Homo sapiens: one gene and its partner. The protein of the gene in region 2 interacts with the protein of the main gene of each other region in a pairwise test. Each region holds a gene or a part of one and is shown on either strand. Other genes may lie near its edges.

What was found.
Region 1: the proteins of SAE1 (region 2) and PAX8 interact in binary tests that used the Homo sapiens proteins (3 or more experiments, as listed by UniProt).

The regions. Positions count from the first base shown.
Region 1 is NC_000002.12:113,215,213-113,219,923, reverse strand, and holds the end of PAX8 (paired box protein Pax-8), read left to right. Parts: intron 1-1,314; coding exon 1,315-1,391; 3' UTR 1,392-3,927; downstream 3,928-4,711. UniProt on the Homo sapiens protein: Transcription factor for the thyroid-specific expression of the genes exclusively expressed in the thyroid cell type, maintaining the functional differentiation of such cells.
Region 2 is NC_000019.10:47,203,770-47,211,055, forward strand, and holds the end of SAE1 (SUMO-activating enzyme subunit 1), read left to right. Parts: intron 1-5,389; coding exon 5,390-5,482; coding exon of another isoform or gene 5,483-5,556; 3' UTR 5,557-6,867; downstream 6,868-7,286. UniProt on the Homo sapiens protein: The heterodimer acts as an E1 ligase for SUMO1, SUMO2, SUMO3, and probably SUMO4. It mediates ATP-dependent activation of SUMO proteins followed by formation of a thioester bond between a SUMO protein and a conserved active site cysteine residue on UBA2/SAE2.

The DNA of each region.
Region 1 (4,711 bases), on a different chromosome or scaffold from region 2:
GGTTGTTTGGGGAAAGAGGGCAGAAGTCCAGAGGCTTCCAGGCATTCGTTTCCCTCCTGCTTCTCAAGCCCATGTCTTTTAAATCTTTGTTTTGTGTAAGATTCAGGGCTCAGGCCTTGAAGGGGAGGACAAGGGAGGACTTGAGAAAAGCCTAAGAGAGGACCTCCTGCCTCCACGGCTTACAGTCCCACAGTGCAGACACTGACGCAGGGCACCCGCCAGAATGTAACTGCCCTCCTTCCTGGGAGCCAGTTTCAAGAATGCCATCCTGTTGCCCCCATTAACCATCTAAGTGGCTCAGAAATACTCATGATTCAGCACCAAACCCTTAAACAGAAATCTTTTGTTCCACCACATTCCCCATATTTAGCCTGAGATGAAGACAGTATTCAGGGTCGAGGTCCAGAGAGTGAGCTTCAGCGAGCTTCCAGGCTTCTCTTCACCCCTCTCTTGTCCTGGGGTCCTGAACTGGGAAGAGAAGCTTTTCAGCAAAGCAAAACCCCACCAATGGGGGGACTTGAGGGATCCCACTAGAGCCTCCCTGAGTGGTGGCCTTGGGTGTATCAGAGCAAACCGGAGCCAGACAGAAGCAGTGATCCAAGGATGGCCAACCCCACAGGCACCATTGCAGGCTAGGAACCATCCATTCCCCAAGACCCCCTCTCCTCCCATTACCTCTTTGTATTCCAGAAATAACTTGAAAGGTGGCAGACCTGGGCCCTGTTTGCCAGATGAGTTCAACTCCAACCCAGCTTTCCATTCAATTTAGCCAGAAAAGACGAGGGCAATGAGACATGCCAGGGTTCAGGCACCTTCCCACTGAGCCTCCCCAGGCTGCCCATCCTGCAGGTGTGCAGAGCCTCACCTTAAGGGCCGTCAAGCCCAGATCCCCTTTGACCCCTCAGCAGTCTAATCTCCCTGGGTCTTAAGAAAGAAGACTCTCTGTCCTGGCACTGTTTGGGCAAGGCTAGGGAGGATCCCAATGACCTCTCAGTGCACTTGATTCTTTGGGGTTCCACATGCAATTGTTTTCTATTGCCCTCTCCCTATTGCAACGAGGGTGTTGAAGGTCAAAGCAGCCATAGGGGGAAGGGGCAAGAAGCCACTGTTCTCATTCTGGCCAGAAACTCAAAGGTGAGGCCAGAGAAGGAGGAAATAGGGCTGGAGAGGAGTTAATCTTCGATGATCAGATAGGCCAGAGAAATGAATGATTAACTTGTGTTGTCTTAAAGGTCAGCAGATGCAGGGAAGGCTATGGTGCAATTTTCCTTTCTGACCAGCAGTGTTGTTGTTATTTTTTTTTAATGTGTCCAGGTTCCCCATATTATTACAGTTCCACATCAAGGCCGAGTGCACCGCCCACCACTGCCACGGCCTTTGACCATCTGTAGTTGCCATGGGGACAGTGGGAGCGACTGAGCAACAGGAGGACTCAGCCTGGGACAGGCCCCAGAGAGTCACACAAAGGAATCTTTATTTATTACATGAAAAATAACCACAAGTCCAGCATTGCGGCACACTCCCTGTGTGGTTAATTTAATGAACCATGAAAGACAGGATGACCTTGGACAAGGCCAAACTGTCCTCCAAGACTCCTTAATGAGGGGCAGGAGTCCCAGGGAAAGAGAACCATGCCATGCTGAAAAAGACAAAATTGAAGAAGAAATGTAGCCCCCAGCCGGTACCCACCAAAGGAGAGAAGAAGCAATAGCCGAGGAACTTGGGGGGATGGCGAATGGTTCCTGCCCGGGCCCAAGGGGTGCACAGGGCACCTCCATGGCTCCATTATTAACACAACTCTAGCAATTATGGACCATAAGCACTTCCCTCCAGCCCACAAGTCACAGCCTGGTGCCGAGGCTCTCCTCACCAGCCACCCAGGGAGTCACCTCCCTCAGCCTCCCGCCTGCCCCACACGGAGGCTCTGGCTGTCCTCTTTCTCCACTCCATTTGCTTGGCTCTTTCTACACCTCCCTCTTGGGCATGGGCTGAGGGCTGGAGCGAGTCCCTCAGAAATTCCACCAGGCTGTCAGCTGACCTCTTTTGCCTGCTGCTGTGAAGGTATAGCACCACCCCAGGTCCTCCTGCAGTGCGGCATCCCCTTGGCAGCTGCCGTCAGCCAGGCCAGCCCCAGGGAGCTTAAAACAGACATTCCACAGGGCCTGGGCCCCTGGGAGGTGAGGTGTGGTGTGCGGCTTCACCCAGGGCAGAACAAGGCAGAATCGCAGGAAACCCGCTTCCCCTTCCTGACAGCTCCTGCCAAGCCAAATGTGCTTCCTGCAGCTCACGCCCACCAGCTACTGAAGGGACCCAAGGCACCCCCTGAAGCCAGCGATAGAGGGTCCCTCTCTGCTCCCCAGCAGCTCCTGCCCCCAAGGCCTGACTGTATATACTGTAAATGAAACTTTGTTTGGGTCAAGCTTCCTTCTTTCTAACCCCCAGACTTTGGCCTCTGAGTGAAATGTCTCTCTTTGCCCTGTGGGGCTTCTCTCCTTGATGCTTCTTTCTTTTTTTAAAGACAACCTGCCATTACCACATGACTCAATAAACCATTGCTCTTCATCTCAGGCTTTGGGGTTGGCTGGGGAAGGAGGCATCCCGGGGCTGGGCTTTCTCCCAAGAACATCAGAGCTGAGTAGCCGACAAACTCACTTTGGGGCCGTGGGCTGGAAGGGACCATCTGATGCCCCAGAGCTCTGGCTTGGCCTTCTCCCTCTGCCTTTAATTCACGTTGAACGCTGGGTACCTCACTCATCCCAAGTTCTTCAACACTGAGCAAATGCAAGGATAGCACAGTACTGAGCCAACCATAGACTCCCCACAAGGAGTTGCTGTTGTTATTAACAGGAAGCCAGAGAATCAGCAGGGTGGGTTAGTGAGGGATCCGGGAATAGCTGTGACTGGAGCCTGCATAAACAGCTCTGAAGGGAGAGAGAAGACTGGGCTCTCTTGTGTGCCAGGCACAGTATGGAAGGCTTCATATAAGTTAAGCTGAAATTAGCCCTGTTTTACATACAGCTTCATTTTACATATGAGGAAACTGAGGCTTTGAAAAAAATGAGATGTCTTGTCCAAGATGAAAAGTAGTAGATTCAACCAAGTCCTCTTACTCTAAGCCCAACGCTTTTACCCAAAACCCCAGAGTCCTCATCAGGGATGCCAAATGGTTCTAGACCCAGTGGAGGTTCTGGAGCTGCCACTGGGGATTTAATTTCTTTTGATTTGCTAAAGATTTGACCTGACTGAATGGAGAGGTAGAGTGTAGTGTGGCCAGGACAAGGTGAGGGAGGCTGTAGAGACTTAGCACTTTAGGCCAACCACCTCCAGGAAATCTGGGAAATGCAATGTGACAGCTCGGGCTCTGCACTCCAGGGGGCTGTCTGGTGTCCACATGGACCTTCTCCATGTGGGACACAGCTGGAACAAGGGGGCAGGGGCCTGCAGCTGGGATGCCCAGGTGAATATGGGCAGCTGGACAAACAACACTGGGATTGAGTCAGATAGAAGGGGCCCAAGGACTCCAGGGCTGGGAGGACAGAGGCTGGGAGAGAGGGCTCTTACCTCCTTAGGCCTCCCAAAGAGCGGTTAGGGATGCTGCCATGGATGGCATGGCAGGGGGAACCCTCCTGGAAGAAAATCCATCTCTTCTGAAGGGATCTGAGATGCGGCTGGTTTTTCAATGGCAGAACTTCCCTCTGCAGCGCGACTCCGAATCCATGACATCTGAGAGTCTTCCTGACCACAAACCTCTGGGATCCCGAGGGCTCCCTACCCAAGAATCACTTTGAGCACAGCATCCCAAGGAGCCCATAGAGCGATCCCTTGCATTCACAGCCACAGCCCCTCTGGGGACACTCTGTACCCCCGGCAGACCCTTTCCAACTCACAACCAATAAAGGGGCTTGGGCTGTGCTTTGACTAAGGTGACCATGGTTTAAAACTCGCCTTTCTTTCCCGGAGGTGAGCTGGGCTTGCCAGGAGCCTCTGCTCAGAGCGGGTGTTTGTTGACTGTGGGATGTGTTCCCCATGTAACAGGCCTTGGCTAGTACCCATCCAATATTCTGCCCATGGTCAAACCATGGGTCCCCTTTTCGGGCTCAGAAAATAAGGCCATTTATGTATCGGGCGAAAGAAAGACAATTCGACGTGCCCCGGCATTTGGGGTGGTGTTGGGAGGAGTCAGGCTGGCACATGGGGGGACGCAATGAAGAAAGGTGGGATGGCAAGGACAGGGAGGACACGCAGGGGGCTTTGAGGGTTGGCCGAGGGGCCACTTTCACCTGGGGTAGGGAGGGCGGCTTCTGTGAGTGGTCGCAGGTGAAGGGGGGTCGCTTTATGGTGCAGGGGAGCCAGGGGTTCTCTGGGGGTGGTATGTGTGTTTGTAGGAGAATTGGGGATGAGGATGGGCCCAAAACATTGCTGAGGCATTGAGAGCACTGAGGGCCTATCCCTTCCCCCTGGAATAATCCCTTTCACTGCTCATGTAGAGAGACCACCTGAGCTTCCCAGGCAGTTTACTCTTAACTTCTCCCTGGTCCATTACCCTCACTCCTCTTCATCCTCAGGTTCTAGCACAGGCCAGGCCAGCCCAGGGTGCTAGGAGCTTGCAGGAAATTCATGTGGACCAACCAACTCTGGCAGGTCAGTGGGTTTCTTGCTGGGAAAGGGGGCAGCTGGAACCCTGCCTGGGGCCCACCAGATGAACAGAATT
Region 2 (7,286 bases):
TTAACCATGACTTTGTATATGTGCTGACAGAGAGAATGGAAACTGTCTTAGACAGCTGCCTGCTTTCTCTCACCCCATTCATCTTTGTTTCATGCCCTCCCCATTTCCACCTCATCCCATTTTCTCTGGCCCATCCAGGTGCCATTCAGCAAATGACCTTGGAGTGCCTGCTCTGTGCTTAGCTCACAGTTGGCCATAGTGCCTCGAAGGTGTGATCTGCTCTCCCCTAACTGTATTAGTTATCCAGTGCCTGTTGTATTGGTCAGGGATTCTGCTTCTCATAGCTCTATAAGTGAGTACTATCATGATCCCCACTTAAGAGGAAGACACTTGGGCCCATGAAAGGGACTCCAGAACCTGTGCTCTTAACCTCTGTACAGTTTATCTCTATTCATCACCATGACATCAAAGCCCTCCCTTTTTTTTTTTTTTTTTTTTTTTTTTTTGAGATGGAGTCTCGCTCTGTCCCCCAGGCTGGAGTGCAGTAGCACGATCTCAGATCACTGCAAGCTCCACCTCCCGGGTTCACGCCATTCTCCTACCTTAGCCTTCCAAGTAGCTGGGACTACAGGCGCCTGCCACCACGCCCAGCTAATTTTTTTGTATTTTTAGTAGAGACAGGGTTTCACTGTGTTAGCCAGGATGGTCTGGATCTCCTGACATCGTGATCTGCCCACCTCAGCCTCTCAAAGTGCTGGGATTACAGGCATGAGCCACTGTACCCAGCCGCACCCCCCCCCTTTTTTTTTTTTTTTGAGACAGAATCTCACTTTGTCTCTCAGACTGGAGTGCAGTGGCATGATCTTGACTCACTGCAACCTCCGCCTCCTGGGTTCAAGCGATTCTCCTGCCTCAGCCTCCCGAGCAGCTGAGAGTACAGGTTCCCACCACCACACCAGGCTAATTTTTGTATTTTTAGTAGTTCACCATATTGGCCAGGCTGGTCTCGAACTCCTGACCTTGTGATCCTCCCACCTCAGCCTCCCAAAGTGCTGGGATTATAGGTGTGAGCCACCGCACCCGGCCAAGCCCCCGTCTTTTTAACCACACACTGTAGGTATTTGTAGAGAAATCAGTTTCTGTGTCCCCATGAACACACCAGGAGCCCCTCAAGGCTCTGTACAGGATGACCCGTGACCCTGTTAGGTAGGTGTTAGTGTGTCTCTCAGAAGGGAAGCATCTTATACAGGGTCACATAACCAGTAACTAGCACAGCCTTTTGAGGGTCTTCTGGAACATTTGGGTTGCTAAAACTATACCATACCCCCAAATATATTGTACATTCTTTGCAGACTTTGCTATTTGCCCGAAGATGTTAAATTTGCCTTTTGCAGGTTCTTGGCTGCCTTCGTGGACTCCGGTGAGGCTTTTTCCTTCTTTCTTATGGAGCAGAGTCGTGCCTGGTTAAATGATTGGCCATGTCCATGTACATGTCAAGTTTGAGCTTGGGAGGACAGTTTGGAGGCCAGCCCTTAACACTTTGTCTTGGGGTCTGTACATTCTGGAGGCGTTTGGCTCAATTTGTTAGTCACACCGTTTTCCTAAGGCTACTTTTTTTTTTTTTTTTTGTCTATTTTTTCTGATCCTTCTCTCTGGTCTAAATTCTTCCTTTGATCAAATCTAACTTTCTTCTATGTAATGGGCACCGAGGAGATATTTGGAGGGGGAAGAAAAGTGTGCAATGGCCATACCTCTTTCCTTGCTCACATTTTATACATAGCCCAGAGTGATGTGAAAATTACAGTTTATATGCCCAATCTGAGAAGAGGGTAATGGCCACCCAGAGGACTGTTCGAGCAGGATTCTGAGGCTCCCTGTAGACAAACTGCAGGAAAGAGTGCAGCAATGGGAATGTTCTAAGTGGGGAATGGGAATGTACATATTTTTGTAGCCTAAAATGACGACACCACCAATAATAGACAAGACTTACTGAAAGCCCACTGTCTGCCACACAAAGACAGTGTTTTTTACGTGGATACTCATTTCATCTCCCACCGGCCCTATGAGGTAGGAACTCCTGTGATCCCTGGTTTATAAAAGAGAGACTAAGGTGCAGGAAAGAAGATGCTTGCCCAGGCTAGTGAGTGTGGTGCCAGGATGTGGGCCCAGGCAGTCTGGTTTCTGAGCCTGTCCTCTTCACCACGGGGCAGTCATGCATCAGGTGTTGCCTTCAATGGCACCATCATGTAGAGACTGCATGGACCCCAGGGCCGCTGCCCTTGCATTGTCAGCCTTACTTCTGCACATCCCATTGAGGGGCTCCCCCTAAATTTTTCATGTGGGATGGAGACTGGAGGTTGGGGCAGGTAGCCTTGACCCCATTGTTGGTGGTAGTTTCTCACATCCCCATCCTCACACAGCCCCCTCCTTCCTGCCTGCTGGAGACAGCTGGTGCCCAGCATCTTGTTTCTGTTTATCCCAGATAGCCAGAGTACTCTGCATTCTTCGTTGCTGGGTGTGTTTGGAATCTCCTCCTACCCCATCTTGCTTGGGAAGCACTTTACCTTTTGCCCCATGTCACCCCATGCCCTGCTCTCATCCCCAGTACTCCTTCATACTTATTACTGGTCAGCCTTCAGCCAGCTGGCAGGCGGGGCCTGCAGTCCAAGGGCCTCAGACTCACCTTTCTCTCCTGAGGCACTGTCTGAGCGCCTATGGAAAGCTTACACTAGGAGATGGGTCAAGCGCAAGTCTGCTCCTTTGGAATCATCTTTTGCGTCTTTCCTTTCTTACGTCCTTCTAGATACCCTATTTTATATCCATGTCTACTTCCTTGGGTTTAAAGCAGTTTTCCTTTCTCTCCATCCCCACCGTCCACGGCAGGTCTCCCTGTCTATGGTAAGAGAGGTGATAGTGAAAGCAGCAGCCATCCCAGGTTCATGGTAAAACACATACCATCTCCTGTATCTTGGGTTTGAGGGTCTAAGAGTTCCACCTGTGTACTGTTGGACCCTTCCACCTGGCTAGGTTGGTGGCATCCCCAGTATTGGTAAAGGACTCCTGGCCCTATTATTATTAATAGCAGCTCCTACTTACTAAGAATTTACTACGTGCTCGGCACTTTACAAGCCTAGTCACATTTCATTCTCACCAAAACTCTAGCAGGCAGGTGCTTTTTATTTGCCTATTTGCCCAGAGAAGCAAACTTCTTTCTGATCCAAGCTCCATGTGGACAGAGACCTCAGAATCCTTAATGTCTAGCTGAATACCTGGCATAGAGTAGATGCTTAATAAATGTTCCCTTGACTGGGTGCAGTAGCTCATGCCTGTAATTCCAGCACTTTGGGAGGATTGCTTGAACCTAGAAGTTCAAGACTAGCTTGGGCAACATGAGGAGACCTCATCTCTACAAAAGTCCCAGCTACTCAAGAGGGTATGGGAGGATATCTGGAGCTGGGGAGACGGAGGTTGCAGTAAGCCGAGAATGTGCCTCCCACCTGGGTAGCAGAACAAGATCCTATCTCAAAAAATTAAAAACATTTACAAATAAATAAAATTTCCCTGGAAAAATGGCTGACTAACACTATTTGTATATGGTAGATGTGATTGTCCCTGTTTTATGGATGAGGAAAAGGGTTTGGTGCTGAGTTTGAAGAGGAGCAGTTCAGGATGTGTAGCCCCACCTTCCTCATGAATGATGGGACGGTGCTCCTGGGAACCGTTAAACCCTGCCCTGGCAGCTTGCCTAGGTGATGTCTTCCTCTTTAAATGGTAGCTTGTGGTGAAATTTCAATCCTTTCTGGGTTAAGGACCTGTTTGAAAATTTGTGACAATTGTGAACCCTTTCTCAGAAAGATGTATGTGCATACAAGACTCAGTATGTTGTTTCGGGGGCTGACCCTGCCTCAAAAGACAGGGCCACGTGCTCACTCTCCTTCCCACCCCTCTCTCTCGCTCTCTGTTGCCCAGGCTGGAGTACAGTGGTGCCATCACAGCTCACTGCAGACTTGATTTCCCTGGACTTAAGTGATCCTCCCACCTCAGCTTCCTGAGGCACTGAGACTATAAGCACACGCCACCACATCCAACTAATTTTTTTTATTTTTTGTAGATATGGGGTTTTGCCATGTTGCCCAGGCTGGTCTCGAACTCCTGGGCTCAAGTGATTCTCCCGCCTCGGCCTCCCTAAGTGCTGGGATTACAGATGTGAGACATTAAGCCCAGCCCTGTTCTTGTATTTTAAAGTGCTCTGTCTGGTAACCCCACAAGATAATCACCATTGCCATTGCTAAATAGCATTGTCCAGGCCCTCTGGATCCCAGCCCTGACCCCCTGTGGAAGCCTAGCGACTCTATGTCCTCATGGAATAGCCCCCGCTTCTGCATCAGTGTGTTCCTTGATTAAATGTGTCCCCTTAGGTGATAAAGGCCACAGCCTAAGAACTGCCACCTTTCTCAGTTGAATAGTCATGAATAATTATTTCTGCTGTTTGCCCAATGGTGGTGCAACACAGTGTTAGTCATTGTTTTAGTTTTAAGGTGTTTTTTTGTTTGTTTGTTTTTTGTTTTGAGACAGGGTCTCACTCTGTTCCCCAGGCTGGAGTATAGTGGCACTATTACAGCTCACTGCAGCCTCAATGTCCCAGGCTCAAGCGATCCTCCCACCTCAGCCTCCCGAGTAGCTGGCACCTTGGGCATGCATCACCATACCTGGCTAATTTATGTCATTTTTCTTTTTCTCTTTTTTTTTGAGACAGAGTCTCACTGTGTCGCCCAGGCTGGAGTGCGGTGGCGCAATCTCAGTTTACTGCAACCTCTGCCTCCTGGGTTCAAGCAATTCTCCTGCCTCAGCCTCCCGAGTAGCATGCCACCATACTCGGCTAATTTCTGTATTTTTAGTAGAGACAGGTTTCACCGTGTTGGCCAGGCTGGTCTCCAACTCCCAACCTCAGGTGATCCGCCCACTTCAGCCTCCCAGAGTGCTGGGATTACAGGCGTGAGCCACTGCGCCCCACCTATTTTAGTTTTCATATAGACGGGATCTCACCATGTTGCACAGACTGGTCTTGAATTCCTGGGCTCAAGTGATTCTCCCACCTCAGCCTCCCAAAGTGCTGGGATTACAGGTGTGAATGTGCCTGGCCCTGGCCTGTTTTACATTTTTGAGATACATAGTTTAACCCAGGCAAATACATTTCTTAATCTCATGTTAGGAAAATAAGGTAATGTTTGGAGAGGTTAAATAATCTCCCCATGGACACACAGCTTGTAAGGGACAGAGCAAGGAGATAGGACAATCAAAATTGTCTCCAGACATTGCCAAATAGCCCTTTGGGAGCAAAATCGACCCCAGTTAAGAACCACTGCCCTAGACTGCTTTTAGAATTTTTTTTTCCCTCTATTCCTCTTAAAGCACTTGAGCTAAACCCTCTTTTCATTTTTCTCCCCAGGCCCTGTCTCAGCGGGACCCTCCTCACAACAACTTCTTCTTCTTCGATGGCATGAAGGGGAATGGGATTGTGGAGTGCCTTGGCCCCAAGTGAACTCAAGATTTGGCAGCCCCAGAGATGCCAACTGCAGCATGCCCACCTGTATTCCCTGTCCCCTTCCTTCATGAAGGCATCTCCAGGCAAGGAAAACTGAAGTCATTGGCCCGATACAAAACATTTCCTGCAACGAAGGAGGTGGTGCCGACGTGCTGCTTCCCATCACCAGCAGCTGCTCGACAAGGGGCGCAGGGTGGCTGTCTTTGTTCCAGCACTGTTCAGGCTGCCTGTCATCCCGGGCCTGCCAGCTCCCCTGAGTGATGAGCACTTCCAAGCACCCCTCTGCCCTTTCTCTGTCCTTATGCTGTCCCGGCCTCGCCAGCCCTCTGGGGCATTGTGGGAGATGCCTGCCAGGAATGAGCAAGCTCTGTTGCTCGGGAGCCTCTTGTCACCTTCTTGGACTTATTCCCCACCTGATACCTTATAGAGAAAAGTGTGAATTCAGGTGGAGAGTAGGCCCAGGCCCCATGAGGCACCAGTGGAAGCACAGCTCCAAGTTCAGACAGGTGCCCTTAGAGAGGAAAACCATGACAGGCAAATGCATTTCCTCTGGAGTTTGAGACCCTGACAAACAACAGGTGGCATCTGGTGTGCTGTTCTTGAGTTTTCGTTTAGGATTAGTTGAGTTCCAGCTGGGTTTTGGGAGAAAGGAGATGCTACCAAGTCTTGGATGTTAGGGCGAGACCCTGCAAGTTGAGTATTAGAGAGCTTGTCTTTCAAGGCAGGTTCCTGGGGCTTCAGGGCTAGGAGGGAGGAGCCTGCCCTTTTAACAGAACCCCAGTCACATGCGGCTCAAGTCACTCAGAGGCTGTTGCATTTCAGGGCTATGTTGGTCCTTTGTTTACCTCCTAAACCACAGCTGTTTGTGTTTCACATATGTTGTGAATTTTCCTTGGTTCTTTTTAAAGGAATGATAATAAAGTTACTTGCTTTAGGATTTGCTTGTTTTTCTTCCACTTCAGAAGCTTCTGAGAGGGAATGGGATGATCCTACCAGTTGCCTTTTCAGACCTGAGGCTCTAACTCAAGAGATTCCTCCTCTCCCTCACCATTCCTGCCACCATTTTTTCTGGGTGATGCAGCAAGAGTTAAATTGTTCACATTCTAGAATGTGTAGAAGCTTCTGGCTCCAGTTGTCTAATGGATAATTCAGCTAAATAGTGGCTATTTTCAGTGGCAAGAATTATAATAATAAAGGGAAGTCAAAAGTGATGCTTCATATGCCCCAAGTGCCACAGCCGCTACGGGTCAGAGCTTTTATTGGAAGACCAGGTTTGCCTTGATGCAGCCAAAGTGCGTTCCAGTTCACCCCACTCTTGCTTGTGTTTCTTCTTTATGTAAATTGTGTGATGTTTCAATAAATCAGTCTCTTTCCTATTCTGATCCTGCAGCAGTTAGTCGGGGAGAAAAGTGGTCTTCACTACAGAAGGGCCTCTGTTCCTCAACCCTGCATCACCTGCTCCCGCCGGAGGTGAGACAGGGGCTGCATTTCGGAAAGGATCCGTGTCTCGCCACCTTTAGTGCAAGTCAGTGGCGTCAGGGTCAGCAGTTACATTGCTGCATGAATTTCACGTGGTCTTTAAATTCTGAGCTAATTATACTCTTGACTGTAATGTGCAGCCTTGGTCACAAGGGGGAGCAGGTGGGTCTGGATTGATAAAAACAAAATTGTAGAATCGTCCCGGAAGCTTCAAACTTTTCCACCCTGTACCTCTAACGGCAGAGATTAAGTCACCCAGAGGACCCCTCAGGAATCGAGGGGAAAGCTGCCAGCCCCAGGCAAGAAATGTCTAGTTTCTACA